4 linked regions of the Homo sapiens genome follow. The protein of the gene in region 3 purifies or fractionates together with the protein of the main gene of each other region. This does not show direct contact. Each region holds a gene or a part of one and is shown on either strand. Other genes may lie near its edges.

Evidence for each region.
Region 1: the proteins of SFRP4 (region 3) and TUBB1 purify together in Homo sapiens (affinity purification with mass spectrometry; 3 studies listed by BioGRID and IntAct, with this or other methods). This does not show direct contact.
Region 2: the proteins of SFRP4 (region 3) and PPP2R3A purify together in Homo sapiens (affinity purification with mass spectrometry; 3 studies listed by BioGRID and IntAct, with this or other methods). This does not show direct contact.
Region 4: the proteins of SFRP4 (region 3) and ANKHD1 purify together in Homo sapiens (affinity purification with mass spectrometry, with the first as the bait; 3 studies listed by BioGRID). This does not show direct contact.

Annotation. Positions count from the first base shown.
Region 1 is NC_000020.11:59,014,652-59,022,653, forward strand, and holds the start of TUBB1 (tubulin beta-1 chain), read left to right. Parts: upstream 1-4,777; 5' UTR 4,778-4,871; coding exon 4,872-4,928; intron 4,929-8,002. UniProt on the Homo sapiens protein: Tubulin is the major constituent of microtubules, a cylinder consisting of laterally associated linear protofilaments composed of alpha- and beta-tubulin heterodimers.
Region 2 is NC_000003.12:135,996,671-136,003,929, forward strand, and holds part of PPP2R3A (serine/threonine-protein phosphatase 2A regulatory subunit B'' subunit alpha), read left to right. Parts: intron 1-4,388; 5' UTR 4,389-4,828; coding exon 4,829-6,823; intron 6,824-7,259. UniProt on the Homo sapiens protein: The B regulatory subunit might modulate substrate selectivity and catalytic activity, and might also direct the localization of the catalytic enzyme to a particular subcellular compartment.
Region 3 is NC_000007.14:37,913,592-37,921,125, reverse strand, and holds the start of SFRP4 (secreted frizzled-related protein 4 precursor), read left to right. Parts: upstream 1-4,308; 5' UTR 4,309-4,588; coding exon 4,589-5,033; intron 5,034-6,672; coding exon 6,673-6,753; intron 6,754-6,847; coding exon 6,848-6,913; intron 6,914-7,534. Other genes in the region: EPDR1 (mammalian ependymin-related protein 1 isoform 1 precursor), read right to left, coding at 1-186.
Region 4 is NC_000005.10:140,502,645-140,509,903, forward strand, and holds part of ANKHD1 (ankyrin repeat and KH domain-containing protein 1), read left to right. Parts: intron 1-2,176; coding exon 2,177-2,322; intron 2,323-2,477; coding exon 2,478-2,589; intron 2,590-3,079; coding exon 3,080-3,225; intron 3,226-4,190; coding exon 4,191-4,333; intron 4,334-5,140; coding exon 5,141-5,354; intron 5,355-6,992; coding exon 6,993-7,168; intron 7,169-7,259. Other genes in the region: ANKHD1-EIF4EBP3 protein, read left to right, coding at 2,177-2,322, 2,478-2,589, 3,080-3,225, 4,191-4,333, 5,141-5,354, 6,993-7,168. UniProt on the Homo sapiens protein: May play a role as a scaffolding protein that may be associated with the abnormal phenotype of leukemia cells. Isoform 2 may possess an antiapoptotic effect and protect cells during normal cell survival through its regulation of caspases.

The sequences.
Region 1 (8,002 bases), on a different chromosome or scaffold from region 3:
TTTCTCTGAATTCTATTTCATTTGCCAAATGGAGGGTGGGGGCAGCTCCATCTGACCCCTGGGGGATAACTCCTGGGGGAAGTCTGGAAGCAGCCGATTCGGGGTTTCTGGGTGACACTGGTTTTTCTTATCTTCCCGGTTCTATTTCTGTAATAGACGCAAGTGTCATGCAGGAAAAGGCTTGCTGCTGCGGAGCCTTCTGTGGATGGCTGTGACAGGCCACTGGAGGAGAGGGTTTCAGGCTCAGGGCTGGGCTGGTCCTGGTTGGGAATCTCAGTGTTGTGGGCCATAGCGTCCTCACCACACTTGCTAGGAGGAAGCTCCTGCCCTCTGGGGCAATGCTTGCTGATCTCCTCACCTAAATGCAGGCACTGCTAACCTGCCTTGGTCACAGCCCTTTGTTGGGGGGGCAGAAAACAACTTTGTCACTCATCACAGTGGCCACTGTGAATCGCTTGCTGCAGCTCAGGACGGGGGCCGTCACCTTCAGCCTGGCAAAACAGACCTTGGGGTCGTGCCGGCATCTCCAGGGGCAGTGTTCGCCTATGTCCTGCACAGGGCCCGCTTCTACCAGTCCGAGGGCAAGGCAGACTGTATTCCCCACCTCACTGCTGGCACTAAGGTGGCAATCAGAGGAGAGCTGTTTCCTCTGGGGAGCAGGTACCTTCAGAAACAAGGACAAGAGAGCTGAGACGGGACGCACGGCTTTCCAGACCTGCTGCCTTTCCTGCCACTCTGTTCTGCCCAGACATTTTAAATTGAGACAGGCCCCGATGTCCACGGCCATGTCAAGTCTGCCACACAGTAGGTGCTCCGTCTGTAGGTGTGGAATGCATCTCCCCCTCCCACCCTGCGAAGCCCACTTGAAAAATACCACCGGCAGCCACACGTTAGGGGTCAGCCCTGGCAGGCCCAGTCCTCACACCGACTTGTGACGTGGGGACTTTTATTTCATTTTTCACGTGAAAAAGTTCAGGTCTAGGGCGGAGATGGGCCCCTGGGTGGCGGAGCTGCCACTCCGTCCCTCACCCTCTCACAGCCCAGCGTCCAAAGCTCAGCACTCGCCTGGCCTGAATTAACATGGCCGGCGATACAAGAATCAAAGCAAACAGGGCTTCTCTCTTTTTCCTCCTTTTTGCCAACTGCCCCATTAACAGAAAAACCTTTTAAGCGCCCACCTGGAAACCTGGCTTTTTCCCCTCCCTAAGCAAACTAAGATGGCCAAGAGGAATGTGCTGCAGTGCGGAGGGTGGGCGGAGGACCCCAGCAGCCTGGATCCTGCTCACATGGCAAACAGTGAACCCAGGCAGACCAGAAATGCCCCTTGGGCCCAGCCCCGTGGTCCCTGCAGCAAGGCGGTTTGTGGCCAACAGGGGCTCCTTTCAGGAGCTGGGCCACAGAAGGCCACGGCTGCCCACCGGTCACACCTTCCCGTAATAGCTCACTGCGGTTATTCCATCTATAGTCTGTCCCCAACATCCAGGTTTCTTGGAACAGTTTATATCTCCAGCCTAGACCACCTCTTATGGAATGGAGGAAAAAGGTGACCCCACCTGGAGAAGGACACACTCGTGAATAAATACATCACTGGCTTTAAGAACACAGCCCGCTCTGAGCATCACTGCTCAAACCTGCCCAGCTGTCAGTGTGCCCTTAACAAACATTTACTGAGGCCCTGCCATGGATCAGGCACTTTGGGGACTCAAAGATGAAACGACACAGGCAGCTCCCAGGCTGGCGGGAGATAAGGCATGTGTATAAGTAATTAGCAAACAGGACTGTGTGTGGGCACTGCAGGTTGAAGTGCTCTGGTCCCCAGGAGAGGAAGTGTCTCTGATGAGGGACCTGCCTGTGGGAAGATCATGGAGCTGTCTTTGATCTTCGGAGAAGTCTGGTAGGCAGGGGCCCCTGGGTGGGGAGGGAGGCTCGGGAGAGCTGGTGGGGACAGAGACAAGGGGAAAAGAGGCCAAGGCACGCCAGGAGAAAGGCTGGAAGTGAGGCAAGATGGGCTAATGTCTATGGAAACAGAATGGTCTATTCTTAATTTTAAAATGGTCTGTTTTAATTTCTGAAAAATATTGCTGGGGACCTATGAATAGGTCTGTTTTAATTTAAACAGATCATTAATAAAATGGTCTGTTTTAATTTCTGAAAAATACTGCTGAGGACCTGTGAATATCCTCCTCTTGAATTTGCACATTCTTCTCTTTACCTTTGGGCAGGGAGGAGGGGTGACTGGACCGGAAGCATCTGTGAGTCATGTGACATTCAGGTTTGAGCACAAAAAAGTTCCAAACTTAGAGAAATGTTACAAGGGTATTAATCTTGTGCTAACTTTGAAAAGAACCAGCAATTGTTACCACTTTGCCCCTTTGCTGAACTGCCCTCTCTCCGTTTATCACGTTATGTGGTTGTGGAACTGTTTCCCAGTAAGCTGCCAGCATCAAAACGACCTTGAAGCACAGTGCTTCATAATATGGGATCTCCTGGAAACAAGGACTTCCACTTAGAACCACCCTGCCATGATCAAAGTCAAGAAATGGAACACTGATACAATACTATTTTCCAGTGTACACAATCCTTATTTGAATTTTGACAATGATCCTCATACCATCCTCTATAGCAGCCCTCTTCCCTGGTCCTGGATCCAGCCCAGGATCATGGGGTGCACTGTCAGTACTCAAGGGCAGCCTGGGATCTACACACTAGACAGAGGTGAGAAGCAGTCCCAGTCCAGGCACTCTTAGGACACAGTGCTTTCTTCTTCCCCACCTCTGGGTTTCTCTTCTGGTTTATAGCTCAGGCCCTTTGGCTGTGTGTTTGAGCTCCTTTGGGAGTAAGCAGAAGCGATTTCCCCCAGACACTCCATCGTTAGGAACTTTCCTGATTGTGTTCCTGACCTCACATCCTGGGCCCCACCAGGCCTGTAGAAGGAACACAAGGTTTAGGAGTCAAGCCTGGGCTTGGGGCACAGGAAGCACAGGCCCCTCATGGACCAGGCTGGGCTCCAATGCTTCAACCAAGGTCACGGGTCTGGCGAGAGGCAGGGGAGGGAAGGACCTCCAGGGCTTCTCGCTCTGAGTTCAGTAGTCTTGCCTGTCCTGAGTCCCTGTCCTGAGAGATGGTGTCCTTGAGCTGCTCCAGAGCTAGGAGTGCTCTCTTCCTAAGTAAGCCAGAGTTCCAAGAGTGCAGGATCTGGCCACATCTACCTCCTTCATTCCCTTGTCTGCAGCGCCCAAGGTGAGCCCAGCCTATGACAGGTCCCCGTCCATAGCTGTTCAAAGAATGGGGGCAACCTCAGGGTGCCCGGCAGACGTTAAAGAGAGGCCTCAAGAGGTGGTTGCTCACCGGATGGTGGTTGTCCACATCCTCGGGGCTTCAGGAGTGAGGCCTTGCCCTGTACCTGCCCACCTGCACCTCGACAGCTCAACAGGCACAAGGCAGCGTCCACTGGCTCTCCCCTTCCGAGCCAGGGCTCTCACGCCTTCTCAGGGAGTCCCTTCCCCATCTTCCTTGGAAGCTTCCACCTTCTGTCCTCCAGGCGGTGGGGAACTGCCACCCTCCTGGGCAAGGATATGGAGCTGGTGTTTGGCCTGGATGCCCTTGCCTGGTTGGAGGTAATAAAGCCTAGGGCTGGCTTTCGACGATGATAGAAACTTGGTGGCAGGGGAGGTACTGAGGACCAGGAGACAGAACAGCTGCTTTCAAGCTGCTGAGTACCCAGCCTGCTGCCACTCCTGTACACCGCATGAGGGAATGCTTTTTTTTTTTTTTCTGACAGAGTCTTGTTTTGTCGCCCAGGCTGGAGTGCAGTGGCATGATCTCGGCTCACTACAACCTCCGCCTCTCAGGTTCAAGCGATTCTCCTGCCGCAGTCTCCCGAGTAGCTGAGACTACATGTGTGTGCCACCACACCTGACTAATATTTGTATTTTTAGTAAGAGATGGGGTTTCGCCATGTTGGCCAGGCTAGTCTTGAACTCCTGACTTCTGGTGATCTGCCCACCTTGGCCTCTCAAAGTGCTGGGATTACAGGAGTGAGCCACCACACCCGGCTCTAAGGGAATACAATTGGGAGTCCGTTTTGCTCTTGGAGAATTCAGGGTCTGGTAAAGGGACCCTATGGCAAACATTAAGACCCCAGACACCATGAGCTGAGATGGGACGACAGAGCAGGGGCTGGGAAGGGTGCTGGGGCACAGCCCAGCCCTGGCATGGATAGGGCAGGGGTCCAAGAGACCTGCAGGACACTGCAGAGTAACTTGCATACAGGGCGAGAGAGGGCATGTGGGGGAGGGCGGGCAGACAGTGCCTGATGCAGGCCATCCCGGGACCTGGGACCTGCGAGGCCCAGTTGTGGAGCCTCCTGCTGTGGCGGGGCACGGGGCTTCTGGGGACCAAAGTCTGGAAAAGGGGCCGGGAAGATGGACAGGGAAAGCCCTTGGAGGTGGTCTGGTTACCTGGGTGAGCTAGGAGCCACAGTCATCATACCACGGTCACTAGGGCCAGCATGGTCACCTAGAAGCCTGCAAACAGTGCCAGCCTCCAGGCCCTGTGCCCCGAGGTGGCCTTTAATCTTGCACTCACTCTCTAGGAAATGATGGGGCAGTATTCTGTGTTGAGGGAGGAAAAACACTCCCTTCCAAAAGCATGACAGGCAGAAAGCAGAGAAGGGCCAGGACTGGCTGAGGGCGGGGAGCTGGGCCTCTGGGGTGGACACACCCTTGGTCACATTGTGAGGGTAGCTTGGTTGGCCAGTCCCACCACTGCAGTGACCACAGTTGTGTTGGGCTCACACCAGTGAACCGAAGCTCTGGATTCTGAGAGTCTGAGGATTCCGTGAAGATCTCAGACTTGGGCTCAGAGCAAGGATGCGTGAAATTGTCCATATTCAGATTGGCCAGTGTGGCAACCAGATCGGAGCCAAGGTAAGTAATGTCTGGTTACTAATCCTAGCTTTACCACAGTCCATAGAGGCGGACAACCAAAAAAATACCCTAAGTTAGCAGGGAAGACAATAAGTCTAGCAGATTTAATGTACTTGCTAAATATCAGACAATGCCTTTGGGCTTTAATTCTTAAAAAAAAATTTCACATGGGAAAAGAAGGAAACAATCTTTAACTAAAGAGCTACAACACACATTAAGTGCTTAGAGTGTTAATTTAATTAATGTTAATTTTATCCATAGATACATATGTACAATACATGCCGACCATTATATTACATAATACGTTTATCATCTTTTTCTTTGCCCACTCTGTTGCCCAGGCTGGAGTAGAGTGGCAGAATCATGGCTCACTATAGCCTCAACCTCCTGGGCTCAAGCTATTCTCCTGCCTCAGCCTCCTGAGTAGCTGGGATTACAGGCATGCACCACTATGCCTGGCTAATTTTTAAATTTTTTTTTGAGAGACAGGGATCTCACTTTGTTGCTCAGGCTGGTCTTGAACTCATGGGCTCAAGTGATCCTTCTGCCTCAGGCTTCCAAAGTGGTGAGATGACAGGTGTAGGCCACCGTGCCTGGCACTTTTATCATCTTTTATTTTTTTGAGATGGAGTGTCACTCTTGTTGCCCACGCTGGAGTGCAATGGCGCAATCTTGGCTCACTGCAACCTCCACCTCCTGGGTTCAAGTGATTCTCCTGCCTCAGCCTCCCCAGTAGCTGGGATTACAGGCATGCGCCACCACGTCTGGCTAATTTTGTATTTTTAGTAGAGATGGGGTTTCACCATGTTGGTCAGGCTGGTCTCGAACTCCTGACCTCAGGTGATGTGCCCGCCTGGGCCTCCCGAAGTGCTGGGATTATAGGCGTGAGCCACTGTACCTGGCCCACTTTTATCTTAACAATGAACTTTTCATATCTAAAAACAGTAATTTGTCTCAAAACAGCTTTTTGAAGTTTTTTGAGAAACTTTCTGTACCCTGTCACTATGGTGTCTTTCCCCTCCCCTCTCATGTTTATTGTAACGCTTAAAAAAAATCAATTACTGTTTTATTAGTATGCAATTGAAAATTTAAGAAATTTAATTGAAAATAAAAGTTTTTTGTGTACAGTAACATAATTAATTAAAATACACTGTCTGGAATATAAATGAGTTTTTCTTTCCCTTGCCCCCCTGCTTAAAAATTTCCCCCAAGTACGTAACTTAATTGGCCAACCCCAAGAACACAGATGCCCGAACCCACAATCTCCAATCTTGATTTTAAGATGACCAATTGCACCGTGCAAAATTTATCGTGTTCTCTTTGCTGCTGTGAAATTACTTTTACTAATATGAGATGCATTAAAAGTGAGGTTTTGAAACACCTACATTCATCATCCATCAATGACACTTGGGTTGTTTCTGCCTTTTGGCTACTGTGAGTAATGCTGCCAGGAAACAACTAAGGCTTTTAAATGCAGGCGTTTTAAACCGGGGGCAAGGAACATTACTGCTTGAAAAGAAGTCACCATTCCTCCATGCCTCAGGGGTAAGACATTCATAACTCACACACAGAGAAGTGGGAGGCAGGAGCCCTGCTGCTCTGAAGCTGGAAGATAATACGGAAAGGGGCCCTCAAGAGAAAGTGTTAGGTTTAGATAGGGTTTTAGCTCTCACTCTGGAATCGTATGGTCTAGCGTTGAGAGTCCTGGCTGACTCATCATTTAGAGATATAAGAACTTTAAGACACATTTAATTTGGGGTATCTTAGAACTTGAATTTATTTATTCTTCCACTCCCTGAACAGTGCTGGCAGTTTACCATGAACTGCCTTGTTATTAAGACCATGGCCAGAGCAGCACTGTCATTTAGAAGATATGGCTGGGGTTTTTAACATACCCTTGGGGATTTTAATATATGTGAATACATTTTCATTGCATTTTAATATGTGCCTTTCAGGGTGATCAAAAGGAGTCTTCCCAGTAACTGTTTCCATATTAAGAGCTTGGCACATATCTATATTAATAAGTACTGTGTATGTGACTGGAAGTGCAGTATGTTTCAAATAGTTACCAGAGGACAACTATGTGTAATTGTGAGTTGTATGTATACCTGACAATCAAAAATGCACATTACTGGCCGGGCACAGTGGCTCACGCCTGTGATCCTAGCACTTTGGGAGGCCGAGGCAGGTGCATCACCTGAGGTCAGGAGTTTGAGACCAGCCTGGCTAACATGGCAAAACCCTGTCTCTACTAAAAATGCAAAAATTAGCTGGGCATGGTGGTGGACGCCTGTAATCCCAGCTACTTGAGAGGCTGAGGCAGGAGAATTGCTTGAACCCAGGAGGTGGAAGTTGCAGTGAGCCAAGATTGTGCTACGGCACTCCAGCCTAGGTGACAAGAGTGAAACTCTGTCTCAAAATAAATAAATAAACAAACAAACAAACAAACATAAAAAAATAAAAAAAAGAAAGAAAGGCCGGGTGCTGTGGCTCATGCCTGTAATTCCAGTACTTTGGAAGGCCAAGGAGGGTGGATCACAAGGTCAAGAGATAGAGACCATCCTGGCCAACATGGTGAAACCCCGTGTCTACTAAAAATATAAAAATTAGTTGGGCGTGGTGGTGCGTGCCTGTAGTCCCAGCTACTCAGGAGGCTGAGGCAGGAGAATCGCTTGAACCCAGGAGGCGGAGGTTGCAGTGAGCCGAGATCACGCCACTGCACAGATAAGACTCCATCAAAAAAAAAAAAAAAAAAGGCGCTAATTACTTAAAATCATGCACAGAGGTCCAAGTTATGGGCTGTTTGGAAAAGTTCATGAAAAGAAATCCCCAAAGTGAAATGAGTTATTACTGTGAAATCAGATAAGAATTCAGTTTATTTTCCTTTAATGGAATCTACACTTTACTAGCTTGGAGCATTATAAGGAGAAATTAGAGCTATATTGACATTAAATTCTAAAACAACAGCTTTAATGTATATAATGGCATGAATTTAATAGGAGGAAAATCCAATTTAGTACTTTGTGTTTGACATTTTATTTAAGGAGTTCAGGTGGGGAGAAAATGCAATCTTC
Region 2 (7,259 bases), on a different chromosome or scaffold from region 3:
GAGAAGCCCTAGATCAAGCTAGTCATTTGTACCATCTCTACTTCTACATCAGTCCTGCTCAGTGTTTCAGGATCTATCCTTACTTTTGCCTGTTCCTAATCAGATACCTCCTTATTTTCATTAACATCTATTTCAGATTTTCACTATCTTCCCAAATTCCTTAATACCTCTCCTGCCCCCTAAACTTTAATCAATAATTTTGCTTTCAGTTTCACTGAGAAAAATTGAACCTGTCATGGAAAAAAATTCCTTGTATTTTTCTTCTTCCATTTATAAACTGGTTTCTTTCCCCCTGCCTCACTAGGAAAGGTATCCACCTTCCTCTGAGACTAATCCCCTCACCAGGGCTTTGGCTACTAGTTCCTGGGTCCTCAAAGCTTTTTCTGGATCTTTCCCTTCAACATGTACACAAGCTCAAATATCTTCTGTCCTTTAAGAAAAAATTCATATCTCCATTCTCTTCTAGCTGCCGTTTTATAGCCCTCCTTTTCTTAGCAAAAAAACTAATGGAAAATCTAGTCTACCTACACCACTTTTTTTGACACCAAGTCCCTGAAATTGCACGTGATAAGGATACCAGCAACCTTCATATTGGCAAATCCAGTTTTTTGTTTTTCCTGGACCTCTTAGTAACATCCAGTGCTAGTGACCTCCATTTGGAAAGTCCCTTCTTCAGCCTCCATAAAACTGCTTTCTCCTGGTTTTCTTGTTATCTTTTTCTCTTTCTTCTTAGACTCCCTCTAAGAATTCTGTTCCTCTCTTCAACCCAGAAATGTCATTGATCCTCAACTTTTCCTCAGTCCAGAGCTCCCCTCACTTTATGCACTCACCCTGAGTAAATTCTCAGAGCTGCGTCTCCAACCCAGATCTTTCTGCTGACCTCCAGGTTTTTGTGTTCACATTTCATTCAGTCATCACCACTTAGATATTCCACAGGTACCTCCTCAAACAACACATTCAGAAAATAACTTTATCTGTCCTGTGGCCACCCCCTGTAAAACAAAAACAAAAAGTCTGTTTTAGGATTAGCAACACAAGTCTCCCAGTACTTAAGCCAGAAATCCAAGATTCCTCCCTGTCACTTTCCCCTCCTGCTGTTCTATGGATTCTTCCTCCTGGGCTAATCAGTGCCCTCCTCTTTGTTATTACTGTCACCTACTTGGTTTAGATTCTCATCACTTCTTGCATGGATTATTATCATAACCTCCTAATCGATTTCTAGGTCTTCAGTCTGGTTCCTATCTATCCTCCACTCAGGTGCTACAGTGATCTTTCTGTAACAAATTTCATCGTGTTACTCTTACTCTCTAGCCTAAAAGTCTTTGTTTTTCTCATAGCTTTCAGAATAAAGTTCAGACTCCTTAGTTTAGCATACAAAGGCCAACTGTGATTGGCTTTTGCTGCTGCTGCTGCTCTGTTTTCCTGCCCTCTTGCTTGTCTCTATACGCCCGCCAGTGAAACTGGCTGGAACTACTTGTACTTCGGCATTCACTGTGCAGTGTTCTGCCTCTCTGCCTTCACATATGTGTTTCCCTCTACCTGGAGTATTCTTCCCTTCCTTTTTGTCTAAGTAGCTCTCATTGATCCTTCAAAATTATGTACCTACATCGCTATATTTCAGGAAACTTTTCCTGACTCCTCAGTCTGATTCAGATGCTCCCTCTCAAAACAGACAAAGGACATGAAGAAAGGCTTCACAAGTGAACAATGACAAAATGTCTAATAGGTAAATGAGAAGATATTCAGACTTACCAGCAATCAAGGAAATGAAGATTAAAACAATGTACTTCCATTTTTTTCATCAATCAAATTACCAAAAATTTAAAGAGAGGAATCAGTCCAAGAAAACATGGAGAAACAGGCCCTCTTCTAGATTGGCCCTATGTATCTAATGACTTTTTTTGAAAAAGTATATGTACACACACACACACATCTTTTGACTCAACATTTTACTGTGTGGAATATATTATAAGCAAATAACTGGAGAGCTATGTAAAATATATGTAAAAGAATGTTTATCACTGCTTATTTGAAAACAAATAGTAAATAACCTAAATGTTCAGCAATAACAAATGGCTAAATTTATTTATATGATAGAATGTTATTCATTAAAATGATCTATGTCTATTTTGACCTGGAAGTACATTTGTGAGATATTGTCAAAGTAAGTTATAGTATGGTCCAAATTTTGTAAAAAATACATACATTTATAAATTTTTGTAAGAGAAAGTTAAAGTATATACATAAGAATATCAACAGTGTTTATTTCTGCTTGTGAATATTGTCCAGCTTTTCTGAAAAGAACATTTATTAATTGGGGGAGCAAAATGGGAGAAACTTGGCCTCACTCCCAATAGCTGCTGTGCTTGCTTGCTTCTGTCACTGCCCTCATTAAACATTGAGCACTCCGAAGACATCACTATATGTCATTTGGCATCATTCTCCCAGGGTCAGGCACAGAGTAGGAAATGTTTGATAAGTGAATTAGAGCAATAACAGCAATAATATTTATTGTGCATTTACTGAGTCTTAGGTACTGTTGTAAGCATCTGACATATGTTAACTTAATCTTCATGAGATGGGTATTATTATTCTCTCCATTTTGCCGTTGAAACAGACTGACAAGGTTAACCACCTTATATTAGGCCACACTGGCAGGATTGGGCTTCAAAACCATGGAGTCTAGCTTTCTCTTAGACGCAGGACTGCATGGTGCTTCTGAGTTAGGTTGGATCTCTGATTGAAAATAGTGGATTAGATTCCATGTCTAAGATTCCATCTAGTTAACTGGGCATCAATTGAATTATGGTCTGAATAAAAAGGCAGAATTTGACACCCATGGGTCTGAAACAAATAGCAGGGAAAGTAATCTTTGATTCTTTGGCATTTTTTTTTTAACTCAAATGATTTTAGACTGTAAATTTCTCATTGATAGTTGGTGCTACCCCTTGAGGTTTGGTTTTCTGCTGTTGATGTCCTTTCAAAACTTACTCAAAGACCTAAATTTGTGATTCGTTCTTTTAAGTCTTGCCCCATCCCCTTTTTCTTTCTCAGCAAGATGACTCGTGAAAAGTTCATCAGATTTTTATTTATTTACTTATTTTTATTTTTATTTTTTTCTGAGATGGAGTCTCGCTCTGTCACCCAGGCTGGAGTGCAGTGGCGTGATCTCGGCTCACTGCAACCTCTGCCTCCCGGGTTCAAGACATTCTCCTGCCTCAGCCTCCCGAGTAGCTGGGACTACAGGCCATGTCATCTCCCACATTGTCTCCTTGCTTTCTCTGCTCCACCCACTTTGGTCACTTTGCCATTCTTTTAGTGAATCACGCATGCTCCACTCTAGGGCCTTTGTACTTGCGGTTATTCTACCCTGGAGGATTTACCTCATAATACCTCCTTGGCCTCCTTCCTCTAGTCTTTCAGGTCTCTGCTTTTCAGATGTCAGTGAGGTCTTCTCTGACAACCCTTCATAAAACAGCACCCTCCCAGCATTTCTAAACCCTTGCCCTGCATCATTTTTCTCCCCAACACATGCCACCATATGATAAGTTTATATGTTTAACTTGTATGTTGGGTTTTTTCCCCTTGTTTTATTTCCTGCTCTATCCCTAGTGTATACAAAGAACCTGGTACACACAGTAGGTAGTCAGTATTTGTTGACGGAATAAATACATTGACAGAACCTTCTTGGAAAGCAACTACAGTATATTTTAAAAGCTGTTCTTTAAAAAGAATGATTAAGTAAATTCTGTCCACTTGATGCAGAGAGAGAGATATCCACATGGAGCAGGGTCTGGGAGATGGGATCAAGATCAGTAATGAAACTTGTGTTTTCTTTCAGTAAGCAAAAAGAAGATGATGGGAGAATAATTTCTAGGAGTAGAGGAAGTTTGAGACTCAAGAACAGGTACTAGGTGTTGGTAGTCTTTGAGAAGACTAGGTTGATGGAAGCAAAAGGTTGGTGCAGGGACATAGTAGAAAATATGATTATAGATGGATTGGAACAGGTGTTGAGGGACTTAAAAGTGAGTCAAAAGAGGTAGACTTGCTGTGATCCATGAGGAAATCAGAAGTGTGAATTTTTAAGCTGTGAGGGATGAAAATGCCGTGTAAATCTAAGCTTCTTAATATCATATAAGGTGGCAAGGAGCATGCAATAAGAAATTCATCTCAGAGGCAGATGTGACAAGGCAGAGTTGAGGTAATATTACTCTAGGCAATAAGGAGTATAAGGTGTGATGAAACAAAGGCATGAGTTGAATATCAGCTGTAAGGGATATTGCAGATAATAAAGCGTGGTGGTTAACTGCAAATGGGATGCAAAGAAAGAGGAAATCAAAAGTTCCAGCATTAAAAAAATTTCCTTTTAATTTTTTTTTTTATTACAGGTTTCTCTGTCATTCACAGAAAAATGAATCATTTAAACCTTTGGAGGACTCAGTTATCACAATACTTCTCTACTACCAACTAAGATTTATGATAGTAAATTTATGAGAGCAAATTTCCATGTTATAGAACTGTTGAAGAACTAAAAGAGGATATTCTTTCATCAAAATAATTCTGCAGTATCATAATATTACTAAATAAAATTAAAAAGCACAATTATTAAATTATTAAATTTGCCACACATGTGCAGCAGCTACTGTATCCTGATAGTGACCAAACCTCAAATATAAATGGTTTCCCTTCATGGGAAAAGCCATTATATTTGGAAGAAACCACTGAACATTGTTATTAAATATATTTTCAGCTAACTGTCATTTAGGAGAATTTTCATGAAACAAGTTCTAGAAAGTTCCAAGTCCCACCAGTAAGTGGATTTGATATTATGGCAGCAACTTACAGACTTGTGGTTAGTACTGTGAACCACTACAGCAGCGTGGTGATAGACCGGCGTTTTGAACAAGCTATACATTATTGCACTGGAACCTGCCACACCTTCACACATGGAATTGACTGCATTGTGGTACACCATAGTGTTTGTGCAGACCTCTTGCACATCCCTGTGTCTCAGTTCAAAGATGCAGATCTGAACTCTATGTTTCTACCCCATGAAAATGGGCTTTCTTCGGCTGAAGGAGACTATCCCCAACAGGCCTTCACAGGCATACCCAGGGTCAAGAGAGGATCTACATTTCAGAATACCTACAACTTAAAGGATATTGCAGGAGAAGCAATCAGTTTTGCCAGTGGGAAAATAAAAGAATTTTCCTTTGAAAAACTCAAAAACTCTAACCATGCAGCTTACAGAAAGGGAAGGAAAGTTAAGTCTGACTCATTTAATAGGAGGTCAGTTGATTTGGACTTGCTTTGTGGCCATTATAACAACGATGGGAACGCCCCATCCTTTGGTTTACTGCGGAGTTCCTCAGTTGAGGAAAAACCTTTGTCTCATAGAAACTCACTGGATACGAACCTGACTTCCATGTTTCTTCAAAACTTTTCTGAAGAAGACTTGGTTACTCAGATTTTGGAAAAACATAAAATAGATAATTTTTCTTCTGGGACAGACATAAAGATGTGCTTGGACATCTTATTGAAATGCTCCGAGGATTTAAAAAAATGCACAGACATCATAAAACAATGCATAAAGAAAAAATCAGGGAGTAGCATCAGTGAAGGAAGTGGTAATGATACAATTTCTAGCTCTGAAACTGTCTATATGAATGTAATGACCAGGTTAGCATCCTATCTGAAAAAGTTACCATTTGAATTCATGCAGTCTGGGAATAATGAGGCTCTAGATTTAACAGAACTGATCAGTAATATGCCTAGCTTACAACTGACTCCCTTCTCCCCAGTGTTTGGCACTGAACAACCCCCTAAATATGAAGATGTTGTCCAGCTCTCAGCTTCTGACTCTGGACGATTTCAAACTATTGAATTGCAAAATGACAAGCCTAATTCTAGGAAGATGGACACTGTACAATCCATTCCAAACAACTCCACAAATTCCTTATATAACTTAGAGGTAAATGATCCTAGAACTCTAAAAGCTGTCCAGGTCCAATCACAGTCATTAACCATGAATCCTTTAGAAAATGTTTCTTCTGACGACTTAATGGAAACTCTTTATATTGAAGAAGAGTCAGATGGAAAGAAAGCATTAGATAAAGGACAAAAGACAGAGAATGGACCTAGTCATGAGTTATTAAAGGTAAATGAACATAGAGCAGAATTTCCAGAACATGCTACTCATCTTAAAAAATGCCCCACCCCAATGCAAAATGAAATTGGTAAGATATTTGAGAAATCATTTGTTAATCTACCTAAGGAAGACTGTAAATCAAAAGTTTCTAAATTTGAAGAGGGAGACCAGAGAGATTTTACAAATTCCAGTAGCCAGGAAGAGATAGATAAATTGTTAATGGATTTGGAATCTTTTTCACAGAAGATGGAGACCTCTCTAAGAGAGCCACTTGCGAAGGGTAAAAACTCTAATTTTTTAAATAGTCACAGTCAGTTGACCGGTCAGACCCTTGTAGATCTTGAGCCTAAATCTAAAGTCTCTTCACCCATAGAAAAAGTCTCACCTTCCTGTCTAACAAGGATTATTGAAACCAATGGACACAAAATAGAGGAAGAGGATCGAGCCCTCTTACTGCGAATCCTGGAAAGCATTGAAGACTTTGCTCAAGAACTAGTTGAATGCAAATCAAGCAGAGGGAGCCTATCACAAGAAAAGGAAATGATGCAAATTCTACAGGAAACCTTGACAACTTCCTCCCAGGCCAATTTATCAGTCTGTAGAAGTCCTGTTGGTGATAAAGCCAAAGATACTACTTCAGCAGTTTTGATTCAGCAGACTCCAGAGGTGATCAAGGTAAGACCCAACAATTTTGAGTCCTAGGAACTCTTTAAAAAATGTTTAGTGTTTGAAAATTTTATAAAGAAAAACTTTTTTGTTAGCCATTTTTTGTTCTACTAAAGCTCTGCCCTACACTAGGAATGATCTCACTCAGCTCAGAGTCAGTAAAAAGCAAAGATTATACAAGATGATAGAGGAAAAAAAAAAAGCAAAGACTTTAGACTCAGACTGGTTCCTACTGCCCTCCCCATACCCTTCATCTTCTTCCCAGCTCTGTGACCAAAGAAAAATTACTTACCTTTAATATCCTCATCTTTATGGTGGAAATAATAAGGATCAAAATAACTTGTGTGAAACATAAGCAAGGTTCCTTACACAAAGTAGGCATTTAATATTAGTCGTCACCCTCCCCAGCCAACCAAGAGACCAGTTGTTACTGCATGCCTGTGTA
Region 3 (7,534 bases):
GTTGCGCCCGCTACTTTGCTGGTACATAACCTGGCGCCCCTCCCACTGCTGCGGCGCCTGGCACGGGCGCGGGGCTCCCACCGCCCCCAGGCTGCACAGGCCGCACAGGGTCCAGGCCCAGAGGCCGCCCAGCAGCCAGGCACCCAGGGCGCCCGGGACGGTGCGGAGGGGAGCGCGTCCTGGCATCGCGGTCAGCCTTCCCCGGCCCGAGGGCAAGCCCAAGCCCAAGGGGGCGCTGAGGCGTCCGGGATCAGAGTGGCTCCCGCCGGCTCTTTCCGCACTGTGCCGGGAGTGTGGTCTGGACCAAAGTGCTTCCTGTCCCTTCGGTGGCCTCTGCCGCTTTTGAGATCCGGACGCGCGAGTCCCGGTAGCCGGGACCAGGGCCCGGGGAAGGCTCCAGTGAATCGCGCGGGAGCTATTTCTGCCTGGGCCACTGCCTGCTGCCACTGCCTGCTGCCACTGCCTTCTGCCGCTTCGGTTTTCACTGCTCACTGCTGCCAACAGGAAATGCAGTGGCAGTGGTGCCACTAGCATCCTGGGAGGCATCGTGTTTTAAGAGGGGGGATGGGGGGAGACTGTGCTGAGAAGTGTGTTTCTCCACTAACTTCAGTGTTCAACAGGTAATCACACAGGGAGGGGCAAGTTCAAGGTCAAGATAGGAAAAGCAGAGCTGCTGCGTTTGCTGTGCAAACGTTTGCCCCGCCTACATTGCCCCTCGACAAAATTGCAAACTTCTTCCTCCAAATTAAAAGTGGAAAGACGAGTCTTTTCCTGAAGAAATGATACTAGCTATTCATCATGGCCGCTCCTCAGCTCCCATTCCCAGTGAAGAGTCTAGGAGACTAGTAGACAGCCCCTTGCATTGGGCCTAGGACTCATGGACATAGCCTCAAGGTCACATTGCAGTGAGACTGCTCCTCCCATCGCCTGGCAATACCACCAGCCGAGTGGTTTGGGTGTCTGGGGGGTTTCGCTTCTTCAAGAATAAGGTTAATTGGGTTTATAGTTATGTAATGTTAGGATCTATAATATGGAATGAGCGAGGCTCACACACCTGTAGTCCCAGCTACTCCTGAGGCTGAAGTGGGAGGATCGCTTGAGCCCAGGAGTTAGAGGTTGCAGTGAGCTATGATCATGCCACTGCACTCCATCCAGCCTGGGTGACATGGCGAGACCCTGTCTCTAAAAATATAGTGATAAAGTATGAAATCAAGAAAAAAGAAAGGAACTAAAAAAATGTATAGCGTCTTTCCATTTGAACTGCATTTCAAGGATGATTAAGATTGAGCCAGGTGAAAGTGGGAGATAACATTCCTGAATGAAGGGCATAAGGACAAGAAAAGAATAATGCTGGGGTTCAAGGACAAGGTAGAGGAGTACTCTGAAGCCATAGCACTCATTTTAAGGAATTTGTCATTGATATTGAGGACTGTGGGAACTATCAATCAATGTAAAGCTAGGGAGGAGCATCATCAGGCATATGCTTTAGAAAGCCCACTTAGACAACAGAAAGGGTAGGGCCAGAGGGAAGGCAGGGAGAGGAGGAAGCTACTGTTATCATCCTGGAAAGAGATGATCCTGACTCAGCTAAGGCAGCGGGAGTGGTCATGGAAAGGGTGGAAGACAGGTGGGAGCTGTAGAGAAGCATTTCAACTCAGAGAGAGAGGTTTCTGGTTTGGGCCACTGGGAATCCAGTCCTGAGTGAGGAGAGATGATCAATTCATTTTAGGATTGGTTGATCTTGAGCTGACTGTGGAGTATTAAGGTGGAAATATCCAAGGGACAGCTGGATAAATACTTCTGGAAACCAGCAGAGCTTTTGGATTAGGAAGCCATAGGTACATAGGTGGTAAATGAAGCCGAAGAGTAGAACAGTGGTTCCTGGGGAAATTTCACATCCCCCTCCCCAGCAAAGAAACATTTGGCAATATCTGGAGACATTTTTGATGATCACAATGTAGATGGGGAGGAGGCTACCGCTGACATTTTGTGGGTAGAGGCCAAGGATGCTACTAAACTTCCTACAATGTGCAGTACAGCCACCTCCCCTCTCCCAAATGAAGAGAAAATTATCTGGCCCCAAATGTCCTAAGTGTTGGGGGTGAGAAAACCTGGAGTTCAGGGGAGTGTTGAGTGTGAGAAGAAGGATTAGGATGGAGCCCCAGAGAGCTCCAGACATTTAAAGGATGGGCAAAGAACAGGCACTTGAGGAGACCAAAAGGAGTCACCAGAGAGAAGCCACTGAATGAGGCAACTTCCCGAGCCTTGTTAAATAAATGTAAGGCATGGAAAGAATGGACTGAATGCTGAAGTAGGGTGTTCTAGAATCACAGCCTCCCTGGAAGTCCCGAAGAGGAGGGACAGTTGACAGGTTTTCCTGATGCATCCTTCTCTGCTGCCCCCTGTCTGTCGAACCACCAGAGACACTACCAATGGGCCGAATGGGGCAGGCACAAAGCTTTAGGAAGAAGGGCTCTTCATTTCCTCTTACCTTTTCTTAAAGGGCATGCCTCAGAGAACATCAGGGAAGCCCATAAGACTTTGTGACTTGGTACTTACATAGTTAAACAGATGCAGCAGGTTCAAACTGGCTGCAGAAATTTGAGCCCTCTCCGAGTTTGCCCTGCTCAGATTCATAGGAAAAGTGTAGGGTAGTTCAGCTCTTTCTCTTGCTCCCCAGGTAGGAACTCCAGCTGAAAATCTTTTTCACCCAGTGAAGGGTTTAGACTCATTGGAGTTTACTGCTAGAAATGGCTTGAGATGTCATCTGGGCTTTCCTCCTCATGTGATATTTTACTAGCCTGGCTTGGCATCTTTGGAGGTGGAGACTGGTTCTATAGGAACTAGATTACCTTTCTAGAGTGGCTTGGCAGTGTAAGAACACCCTGGGCTTCCCCTAAATAAGAACCAGACTCTTTGGATGAATCCTGAAATGTATTTGTCTCATTTATCCTTTTCACTTACTATGTTTAATTCATGTTCCCTAAAAAATAAGATAATGCATTTAAAGTTCTTAGCTTCATACCTTGACCATTGTAAATTCCCAATAGATGTCACTTGTGCTTGTTGTTTCCTCAGCTGTTTTAATCCTTAGTCTTTAGTTTTAATCCTCAGTCAAAACTAAACTAATTGTGTAGGTTTAAGCTTTGGAGAGAAAAACCATGTGCCTTAAATTCAAGTTAAACTATGTTTTTAAAGATTAACATTCAGAGAACATGTTTCCATATTGCTGATGCCCTAATAAATAGCATATACCAGAAGTCTTACCACCTGAAGATTGATATACATCAATCTCATATAAATAAATCCTCCCTTTTCTGTAGATAGCTGAGCCAGCAATTGGACTACCTTTTCCTAATGCAAGTAAGATAAAAGAGAAAGCAAAACATACATACTTGCATCCCATAGTACACAGCTTCTTACTCAACTCAAGCAACAGTCTCTGAGCACATCAAAAATCAAGATTTTAGGCTGCTGAGGTGGAAATCCTTTGGCATGAAGGATCAGAGCAGGGGAGACCTTTCAGATTGTGGTGCCCAATGTTTTCTCCTGGGTTCCACTAATGCTGCAGAGGGGAACAGGGAGTTAGAAGGAAGAGGAAATGTTAGAAGACATTTCTGAAGCTGGAAGATGCTAGCACACCTTCCCCCAGTTCTGTTAACTTCCTGGAGCAGAAACAAACCAAGTGTTATACTGGAAAAATTTCGGCCCAAACTGTCTACTAGCAACAACAACAACAAACCACACTCCACACAACTAAGGGCGGAGTGGGAGTGATTTATACAACGTGACCCTCCTGTTCTGACATTCACTGCACTCTCGCCTGCCTTGCAGGACATTGTCCCAACTGTCCTCAGCGCTCCTCATGCCCCCTACCGGAGAAAGCAAATATATTTCAGAATTAGAGGGCAGCAGAAGCTCCTATTTTCCCCCAACTCTATACTTGGAAAAACTCTAAGGCAGAGGGAGCAAAGTTCAGTTTTCAGCCAAAGAGTGTCTTTCTCTCTCTTGAAATTCTCTCCCGCACCCTCTTGTATCCGGTGTCGAAAACAACTGCCAGAGGTTCTTTTTCTTGGTCCGAAGAAAAAAGACTGGCCAGACTAAAAAGGAGGGACTTTAGGGGGAAAGCAGGCTTCCAGCCCTGGGCTGCGGCCCAGAGGGGGTGATGTCACCGCTTCTGCACCGACGGGCCTGGGGGTGGGGCGGCCGAGGGGGAGCCCGCGCCGCGGCTGCAGCTGCCAAGGGAGCGTTCCGAGCCCACGTCAGGGGAGGTGTCGGGATAAATAGGGTCCCGCAATGGCCGTGGCTGGCTGCGCTCCGAGCTGCGGAGTCCGGGACTGGAGCTGCCCGGGCGGGTTCGCGCCCCGAAGGCTGAGAGCTGGCGCTGCTCGTGCCCTGTGTGCCAGACGGCGGAGCTCCGCGGCCGGACCCCGCGGCCCCGCTTTGCTGCCGACTGGAGTTTGGGGGAAGAAACTCTCCTGCGCCCCAGAGGATTTCTTCCTCGGCGAAGGGACAGCGAAAGATGAGGGTGGCAGGAAGAGAAGGGCGCTTTCTGTCTGCCGGGGTCGCAGCGCGAGAGGGCAGTGCCATGTTCCTCTCCATCCTAGTGGCGCTGTGCCTGTGGCTGCACCTGGCGCTGGGCGTGCGCGGCGCGCCCTGCGAGGCGGTGCGCATCCCTATGTGCCGGCACATGCCCTGGAACATCACGCGGATGCCCAACCACCTGCACCACAGCACGCAGGAGAACGCCATCCTGGCCATCGAGCAGTACGAGGAGCTGGTGGACGTGAACTGCAGCGCCGTGCTGCGCTTCTTCCTCTGTGCCATGTACGCGCCCATTTGCACCCTGGAGTTCCTGCACGACCCTATCAAGCCGTGCAAGTCGGTGTGCCAACGCGCGCGCGACGACTGCGAGCCCCTCATGAAGATGTACAACCACAGCTGGCCCGAAAGCCTGGCCTGCGACGAGCTGCCTGTCTATGACCGTGGCGTGTGCATCTCGCCTGAAGCCATCGTCACGGACCTCCCGGAGGGTGAGGCCGTAGGAAGGATGGAGGGAGGCGAGGAGGCGCCCGGGGCTGTGGCTGCCAATCGAGAACTGGGCGGCCACACCTAAGGCTGCCAGGGGCGTCTGAGGCTTGTAGGAGGTGGGAAAGAATGGGGGAAACATTTTCTTCAGAAAAAGTCTGGTTTCTCCCATAGGAATTTTAGGAGCTAGCGGAGAGCACTGCACCCCATAAAGAAAAAAAAAAAGATTTTGCTTACAAAGGGAGCCTTCGATGATGTTTGCATTTATAGTAATAACAGAAATGATAATAGCAGTAAACAGGTGTTGCTAGGTGTCTGAGCAAGTGTTAAACACATTACACGTTATTGACTCATTTAATGCCCAAAATAATCTCACCAAGCAGGTGCCAATACTCGTTCCATTTAGCGCTACTTCTTAAAAAGTTTTTTTTTTTCTGAAAAAGCAGTAACGGTCATTGCTTCCCACCAGGAGTGAGATTTGTAATTGCAGTTTCCCTGGAAAATTGTGAGGTCTGTTTCATAGTCATTGGCCCGGAGCCAACTACAGTGGCATTTTAGTTAACCCCATCTCTGCTTCCACTTCCTTCTTTTTTCTTTGGTCATTTGACTGCTTTTCTAAAAAGAAGGAGAGGTTTAAATTCACTTCTTGAAATGAAACCTAGGAATATTTTTGCATTCTTTTATCCAGGCTTTATCTGGCCCAGGTTACCCCACATTTAAACAGACTATGATATTGCTGTGCTGGAATCTCTGAAGTTATACCCCAGAGCATTGCTCTAAACATGAAGGAGGAGTGGTTAAGTGAACAGGGTAAATGGAAACTCCTCTCTAATTTAGAGTTTTAGGAAAGAAAACATATTTATTGTTTAAATTATATAAATAATAGAGGGTTATGCTTGGTTTTGGTTATATACCTGTGAACTGTTTCTGCACTGCAAGATATGAGGTAGGGATTTGGAAATATTTTGGTTATTTTGATTAACATAAACTGTTAACTTGGAAAATCAACATTTAAATATGACTTTGGGAGAGAGTGATGTGATTTATCCAGTTTGGTTGTATATACCAGTGAGGTTAAATGGATATACATTCACATCGATTTGTGCTTGGATAGGCAAATATTCCCCCAGAGGATTTCTTTCCTAAGCCCTGGATATCATTATGAAAGGAGAAGTCAACAATCACATGCCGTTTTTACTTATATAAATATTTTTTGTCTTGTTTTCTTTTTTTGAGATGGAGCCTCACTCTGTTGCCCAGGCTGGAGTGCAATGGCACAATCTCAGCTCACGGCAACCTTCGCCTCCCGGGTTCAAGCGATTCTCCTGCCTCAGCCTCTAGAGTAGCTGGGATTACAGGCATCCACCACCATGCCTGGCTAATTTTTGTATTTTTAGTAGAGATGGGGTTTCACCATATTGGCCAGACTGGTCTCAAACTCCTGACCTCAGGTGATCTGCCCTCCTTGGCTTCCCAAACTGCTGGGATTACAGGTGTGAGCCACTTCGCCTGGCCCATTTTTACCATTAAATACTATTATTTTGAGATACTGTTTTAGTTTATATCTTCAGAGGGCTCTTTATACCAGCTGGGTGAACAGACCAAATCACCAACCACGCCCATGTGGCCCTGTTTGTGTTTCAGATGTTAAGTGGATAGACATCACACCAGACATGATGGTACAGGAAAGGCCTCTTGATGTTGACTGTAAACGCCTAAGCCCCGGTGAGTTCTTTCTTCATGGACGTTCCCTCTACTTCTCCTCTCCAGAGTGATTTCTGTTCTTTTTCCAACTTTCTGCCTCTTCTGCCTTTTTTAGATCGGTGCAAGTGTAAAAAGGTGAAGCCAACTTTGGCAACGTATCTCAGCAAAAACTACAGCTATGGTAAGTCGTCTGTTAAAGCCATTTACTTTTGAGACTTGGTTCATTACAAAGCTGGAATCTCAATAAGGTCGCTCTCACTAAAGCTAGTCACAAAGTAAAGAAAACAAAAGGTTGACTATTTTTCCAGTTGATCATGTGAATTCTATTAATATATGGCACAATAACAACTGCAAAATATCTTGCTTTTCTGGATGAATCAAGTGCAAACAAAGGAAATGACCCAGGTGATAAAAATTACATGCATCAGATTGAAAATTTGACATCTTGATCCTCCTTGTCTTGGTGAGAAGTGCTTATCAGCCCTGATGGCACACCCCACCTGTTCTCTTCCTGAGGTTTTACTGCTGCAGGAAGAATGAGAGAATGATCCATGGATCTGATTATCTGAGAGTCAGAGAATTAAGGCCCATAGGCCCAGACAATTAAGATCTGCCTGCATATCCTTTTACTTGTGACTAGCTACAAATATTTAACATCTTAAATAAATTGTGAAAAAAATGTTAATCACAAAATCCTATGGTTACACTATCGAACTAGTTTAAATGCCCTCCTCTCTCTTACTTGAAAGAACCATTCAGCATTTTCTTCCATGAATAAGTCAGTCATGAAATTTGAAATGTT
Region 4 (7,259 bases), on a different chromosome or scaffold from region 3:
ATATTAATCTTCAGTGTCTTGTTTTTTCAAGCAGTTTTCCAAACATATCAGCTATTTTGAGGAGGTGTAACAAAATAGTATCTGCTTTTAACTCATTGAATGACAACAATTTTTCATTATTACTATTATTTTTTTCTTGGCCACTTCTTCCAGGAAAAAAATGACAAAAAATTTTAAGGCTTTGTTTCCATTTTGCATATTCTTATAGGTGAAACAAACATATGTAATAATTATTCCTATTTGTAACTAAATAGTTAAATTATGTTATTTATGTGATGACAGAAGCTGGAGAAATTTGTATTGCCAAGATGGTTATATATGTTGGTGGGGATGAGCTGGGTAGCTCATGTAGAAATATATCTGGGCATCTTAAACTTTGCTCACTTATTTAAACTAGTAATCTACTAAACTGAGTCATTCACACTTACGAATAGTATCTTTGAATGGGATCTAGTCATATCAAAAATTCTAGAGAGAAAATATTTTCCAACACTTAAAATGCTTACATTTTTCTTTAAGTCCTACGTGTTTTTGACTGACTTTTAATCTGGGTGCAAATGTAAGGTTATTGCCATCACTGATGCTTTGTTGATTTTTTTGTATATTATTACTGATTATATGTTTTTTTCTGAGTTTTTCCTTTCTTGAGTGAATAATGTTTTTATTTTTCAATACAATGAATAATAGTATTGACAATCCTATAAAATATCTGATAGTTACATCTATTGAGCACCCACCATTTGCTAAAAACACTGTGTTAAATGCTTTATATACAGTATCTCTTAGACTACTCACAACATCCCTGAGATAGGTCCTGTTTCCCCCCGTGGTCAAACTCCATCTCTTAAGAAACATAAGAAATTTTCAGAGATATAAAATACATAATTTCTTTTAACTCAGTTTTCTTTCTTTTTTTTTTTTTTTTTTTTTTTTTTTTTTTTGAGATGGAGTCTCACTCTGTTGCCCATGCTGGAGTGCAGTGGTGCGATCCTAGCTCACTGCAACCTCCGCCTCCCAGGTTAAAGCGATTCTCCTGGCTCAGCCTCCCGAGTAGCTGGGCTTACAGGCGCGTTCCACCACTCCCAGCTAACTTTGTGTTTTTAGTAGAGACGGGGTTTTGCCATGGTAGCCAGGCTGGTCCTGAACTCCCAACCCTCCTGACCTGAGGTGATCTGCCCACCTCAGCCTCCCAAAGTGCCAGGATTATAGGCGTGAGCCATCGCTCCTGGACTTAACTCAGTTTTCAAACCACATTTTGAGATCTCAAATAGAACTTCAATGTTCATTTTAAAAATAGTTGGACTTTCAGATACTGATTTTTTAACAAAGTTTCAAAATAAATATTGAATTTAGGAAACACATACTCCCTGCTATTTATGTGAGAAATACTTGAACTTGTCTCCCTCCCCTCCCCCACCCTTTTTTTTAGATGTAGTCTAGCTCTGTCACCCAGGCTGGAGGGCAGTGGCGTGATCTCAGCTCACTGCAGCCTCCACCTGGGTTCAAGCAATTCTTCTGCCTCAGCCTCCCAAGTAGCTGGGATTACAGGCATGTACCACCACACCTGGCTAACTTTCTGTTTTTTTTAGTAGAGATGGGGTTTCACCATGTTGGCCAGGCTGGTCTCAAACTCCTGACCTCAGGTGATTCACCCGCCTCGGCCTCCCAAAGTGCTGGGATTACAGGCGTGGGCCACTGCGCCCAGCCCCCTTTTTTTGAATTGTACACAGGATATTTTTATCTAATTGACTTTTTTACAAACTAAAATCTAGAATTCCTTTTATTTACTTTTATTTTTGGAAATTTTTTTTCCTCCCTGTTGGCAATGCAAAAAGCTACTATTTAATGTATGTGCACTAAATATCAGGTGCTGTGTTAAGTATTTTATCTGCATTGCCTCAGTGGTCTTTCCAATAACCTTCCAAGGCAGGTACCATTATTTTCGCCATTCTACATATAGGGAAAATTGAAGCTCAGAGAAGTTAAATTACTTGCCCAAGATCAGAAAGTCAGTGTTGGAACTAATATTTAAATGTAGGTCTGTCTGATTCCAAAGCTTGTGATTTTACTATTACTACATATTACTGCTATGGAAATTTCTGTTTTTGTGTTTTTCTATGTACAAATAACCTTACTCTTTTAAGTGGAATTTAGCAATATGAATATTGTTTTTCAGCTGTGAGTACCAGAGTGCCCACTGGTTCCAACAGTTCTTCTCAGACCACAGAGTGTCTTACACCTGAATCCTGTTCGCAGACTACAAGCAATGTGGCTTCCCAATCGATGCCTCCTGTGTATCCTTCAGTTGACATTGATGCACATGTGAGTAGATTGCTTTATTTAAACTTATTTTGCACATTCTGATCTTCTTTGGAAAGGAAAATTATTCTGCATTTATTGTGAAAAGAAATATTATTTGCTCTTAAATTGATAACTTCTGTTAAAAAAAATTTTAACTTATTTTTTTCTTCTCCTAGACTGAGAGCAATCATGACACAGCATTAACACTAGCTTGTGCAGGTGGTCATGAAGAACTTGTATCTGTGCTCATTGCACGGGATGCCAAAATTGAACACAGAGACAAAAAAGGTAAATATCAGTCAGAAATAAAATCCAAGTGTAGTTACATCAGAAAATAATTAACTTTTTTATTATTGATAAATAGTTCCTAGACTATCTCAGTGATAAGATGGATAAGTATATTTCAGTTAGGAATATCTGGATTCATTATTCTGCGGAGCCAAATAATTCTCAAAACATTCAAAAATTAGACGTAGATCATTAGTGAAATAGAGCAAGTTGTGGTTGCCTTTGTTAATCCAAAGGTAGTTCATACAGAGGCATCAAAGTTCATTATGAGTATAAACTTTAATAATTTTTACCGACTTAGTTTTTTAATTAGGTGTTTATGGGTTTTTTGTCACTAACAAATTAGGGTTTAGAGCAGTTTTATGTTAACTCATTATCAGTGTCTGCCCTGAAGGATTTATTTTGCTAAAATACTAGAGAATTGTAAACAGTGGCTTTAAAATAAAATAAAAAACATAAATTTGTTTAAGATTTTCATTTTCTGATTTAGGTTTCACACCACTAATCCTGGCAGCAACAGCAGGGCATGTTGGAGTTGTTGAAATCCTTTTGGATAAAGGTGGAGATATAGAAGCACAGTCTGAACGAACTAAGGATACTCCGCTTTCATTGGCATGTTCTGGTGGACGTCAGGAGGTGTGTTAATGTTAATTTTCATTTTGTAAATATTTTGCTTGTATTTTAAAATATGCATATGATTCGTATTTTAGCTACATGAATAAAATTTGCATGTATTTTGTGTGTTTGTTTTTCTGAGGCAGGGTCTTGCTCTGTCTCCCAGGCTAGAGTACAGTGGTGCAATTACAGCTCGCTATAACCTTGAACTCTGGGGCTCAAGCAATCCTCAGCCTCCCAAGTAGCTAGGGCTGTTTTGTAGAGATGGGGTCATGTAATGTTGCCCTGGCCGATTTCAAACTCCTGGCCTCAAGCAATCCTCTCTCCTCGGCCTCCCAAAGTACAGGGATTATAGTTATGGGCCAGCATGCCTGGCCCTGCACGTATTTTAACATGTTCCATATACTTTCTGAGGAATGGGTACTTCTGTTAACTTTTATGGGAATGTAAATGCCCTTTTTTTTTGGCGGGGGTTTGTGGAGGGAACAGGAGGGTGGAGATGAGGTCTCATTATGTTGCCCAAGCTGGCCTTGAACTCCTGGCCTCAAGGGATCCTCCTGCCTTGGCCTCCCAAAGTGCTGGGATTATAGGCATGAGCCACCATGCCTGGCCATAAATCCCCTTTTAAAAAATCTGTTTCTTGCCCTTAAAGCCAAATAAAAATTATCTTAATCCTTACATTTATTCGGATTGAATGAATCACAATTCTAACACATATGAAGTGCAAATTTATTGCCCAATAAATGGCAAATAGAAAGGGTAACATCTTGTTATTGCAGTATAATTGGGATTTCAAAACTCTGAATTCCTGAAATTGAATCCATTTCTCTAGTGTTGATATTTCAATATTTAGGGTCTAATGAAATGTAATTAAAATATCAGATATTTAGATAAGGAAGTTATAAGTCCTGTTTCTTTGTGTTTCCTTCATTATAAGTTGAGCCCTTGGTGTAAACTCTCTTCTCTATCCATATTTTACTTTGTAGGTGGTAGACTTGCTGCTGGCTCGAGGTGCAAATAAAGAACATAGGAACGTATCTGATTATACACCACTGAGTCTAGCTGCGTCTGGAGGATATGTTAATATCATTAAGATTCTGCTTAATGCTGGGGCAGAAATTAATTCAAGGTATTGCCTGTTCATTTTATTGTTCATGTTTAGTAAGTTACTACTTTGGACTTAAATGTCTACCTCTTAACGTTTAGACAGATACATTTTAAATTAAGATAGTACTAAAGTTGCAAAGCCAACGATTATACCTATAATGTGTTTGTTTATAAGTAATCTCAGCTTATTTCAGTAATGTGGCTGCTTATAAAGAGGTCTCATTTCAAAAAGTGTTTTGTTCTATGGCCTACCACCCTAAACGTGCCCAATCTCATCTGATCTCAGAAACGGTATTTTATTTTATATAGTTGGAAATTTATAATCCCTAAATAGGAATTACATTTTATTTTTTAAGTTATTTATTTTTTGAGATGGAGTTTCGCTCTTGTTGCCCAGGCTGGAATGCAATGGCGCGATCTTGGCTTACCGCGAACTCTGCCTCCGGGGTTCAAGCGATTCTTATGCCTCAGCCTCCCAGGTAGCTGGGATTACAGGCATGCGCCACCACACCCAGCTAATTTTGTATTTGTAGTAGAGATGGGGTTTCTCCATGTTGGTCAGGCTGGTCTCAAACTCCCGACCTCAGGTGATCTGCCCTCCTTGGCCTCCCAAAGTGCTGGGATTACAGGCATGAGCCACCATGTCTGGCCGGAAATTATGTTTTAAATTGTGACATTTTCTTATTCTTTATTATTGGTCGAAACAAGTAAAATCTATTCATTGATGTTAGAAACCTCTCTTTTTAGTGAAACCTTTTCATCTTTAATGCTTTTCTAAAATAATAGGCAACATATTATTTTAATTTTCTAAGCACATTTCCCCCTTTAGGACTGGGAGTAAACTAGGTATTTCTCCCCTGATGTTGGCTGCAATGAATGGACATGTTCCTGCAGTAAAATTGCTGCTCGATATGGGTTCAGACATTAATGCCCAAATAGAGACCAATCGGAACACGGCTCTCACCCTGGCCTGTTTCCAGGGCCGAGCAGAAGTAGTGAGTTTGCTTCTGGACCGAAAAGCCAATGTTGAACATAGGGCAAAGGTAAGCATTTTTTACTTGTCAACTATTTCAGATACATTTCTGTAGAAAGAACATGGCATTTTAACGCAAATTGAATATAATATTTTAAATTATCATAAATTAAAACTGATACCAATGCAGAGTTGAGGGATTATGCTGTATAATAGTGAGTGACATACTGTCACCATCATGACTTTTATTAAGGACAATGAAGAAAACAGAATTAGTACTTTTCCCAACCTCAGCCTTGAGTAGCTTTCTATTAATACTGCAGCTTACAACTTTTGAATGTAGTAAGATTATTTTGTATTAACTCTTACACTGTAGACTTTTAAAGAACACCTTTAATGAGGTATGTGCTTATCATTGTAAAAATCCCAAGCAAAAATTTAATTCACAAGTTATAAAATTAGGGCAGCTAACATCTAATTTGACCATGGCAGATTTTGACAGTTTCATGACTATTTGGTATTAAGAAAATAGGAGTTAGTGGAGGCTGGGCGCGGTGGCTCACTCCTGTAATCCCAGGACTTTGGGAAGCCTAGGCAGGTGAATCACATGAGGTCAGGAGTTTGAGACCAGCCTGACCAATATGGTGAAACCCCCGTCTCTACTAAAAGTACAAAAAATTAGCTGGACGTGGTGGCAGGCGCCTTTAATCCCAGCTACTCAGGAGGCTGAGGCAGAAGAATCACCGGAACTTGGGAGGTGGAGGTTGCACTGAGCAGAGATCACGCCATTGCACTCCAGCCCGTGCAACAAGAGAGAAACTCCATCCCACCCCCCGCCCCCACAAAAAAGAAAGAATAAAGGAGAAAAGTCATAAGATAATCTCCATAGATGCAGGAAACACACACAGAGGAAAGAAAATAGGAGTTAGTATGTCATTGGCTTGAATTTCTTTGCTTAGAACTGCAAGGTTCTTAGAACTCTGGAAAGACGTAGGTTGGGTAGAATTTTTAATAATTAGTCAACAGAGAATCTAGTGCTCATTTGAAATTGGAAAGATTTGACTGGAAATCTCGTACTTCTTCCCTGAAATTCCTTTTACTTCTTAAAGTTTAGTGCAACATTTACATTCTTTTAATCTAAGTAATGAGGAAGTGTAGTTTTTCCTTGGCTTTTTACCACACAAAGAGAAATGAGTCTTTCCTGTCATTCAATTTGTCTTTTTCTATTACAAGTATTCATTGTGTGCCACTCATCCATTAAAGGTCCTAGAGAAATCTGTGTTATTTTGGATAGTACCAGTAGGAAATGTCCTTTGAAAAAATGTTGGAGACTAACGTACCAAAGGCACATATGCAAAAAATTTATAAAGTGATTTTAATCTACTTATTTTTAATATCTCTATTCATTATGCAAAGAAATTATCTGAGTAAATTCACAAAAGTATAGAAGTTACAGAATTGTTTTTAGCATGAGATAACATGTTTTAAGTTCATTCTAGCACGTCTGAATCTAACAATTTCTACTGCTGTTTAGTAAAATTCAAGGCAAAATATTGCTTAGCTCTTTTATGAGAGCTAATCAGAACTAGAATTGTCTTAAAAGTTAATTGCCTCAGGTTTTTAAAGAAATTATGTAGCTTAGTTTTGGTCTACGGAATAGTTAAAAAAAGAAATGTAACTTAGTTGCATAATTTATTGGTTTAAACAGACGGGTCTTACCCCCTTGATGGAAGCAGCTTCTGGAGGGTATGCAGAGGTTGGAAGAGTTCTTCTTGATAAAGGAGCAGATGTTAATGCTCCCCCTGTGCCTTCCTCAAGAGATACTGCTTTAACAATAGCAGCAGACAAAGGTCACTACAAATTTTGTGAACTCCTGATTCATAGGTGAGTACTTTTCTATTATATGTAGAACTTCTCATGGTCATTTTCACTTTTCAGAGCTTTTAAAGTTAATAACATTGTTTTACTTTATTGA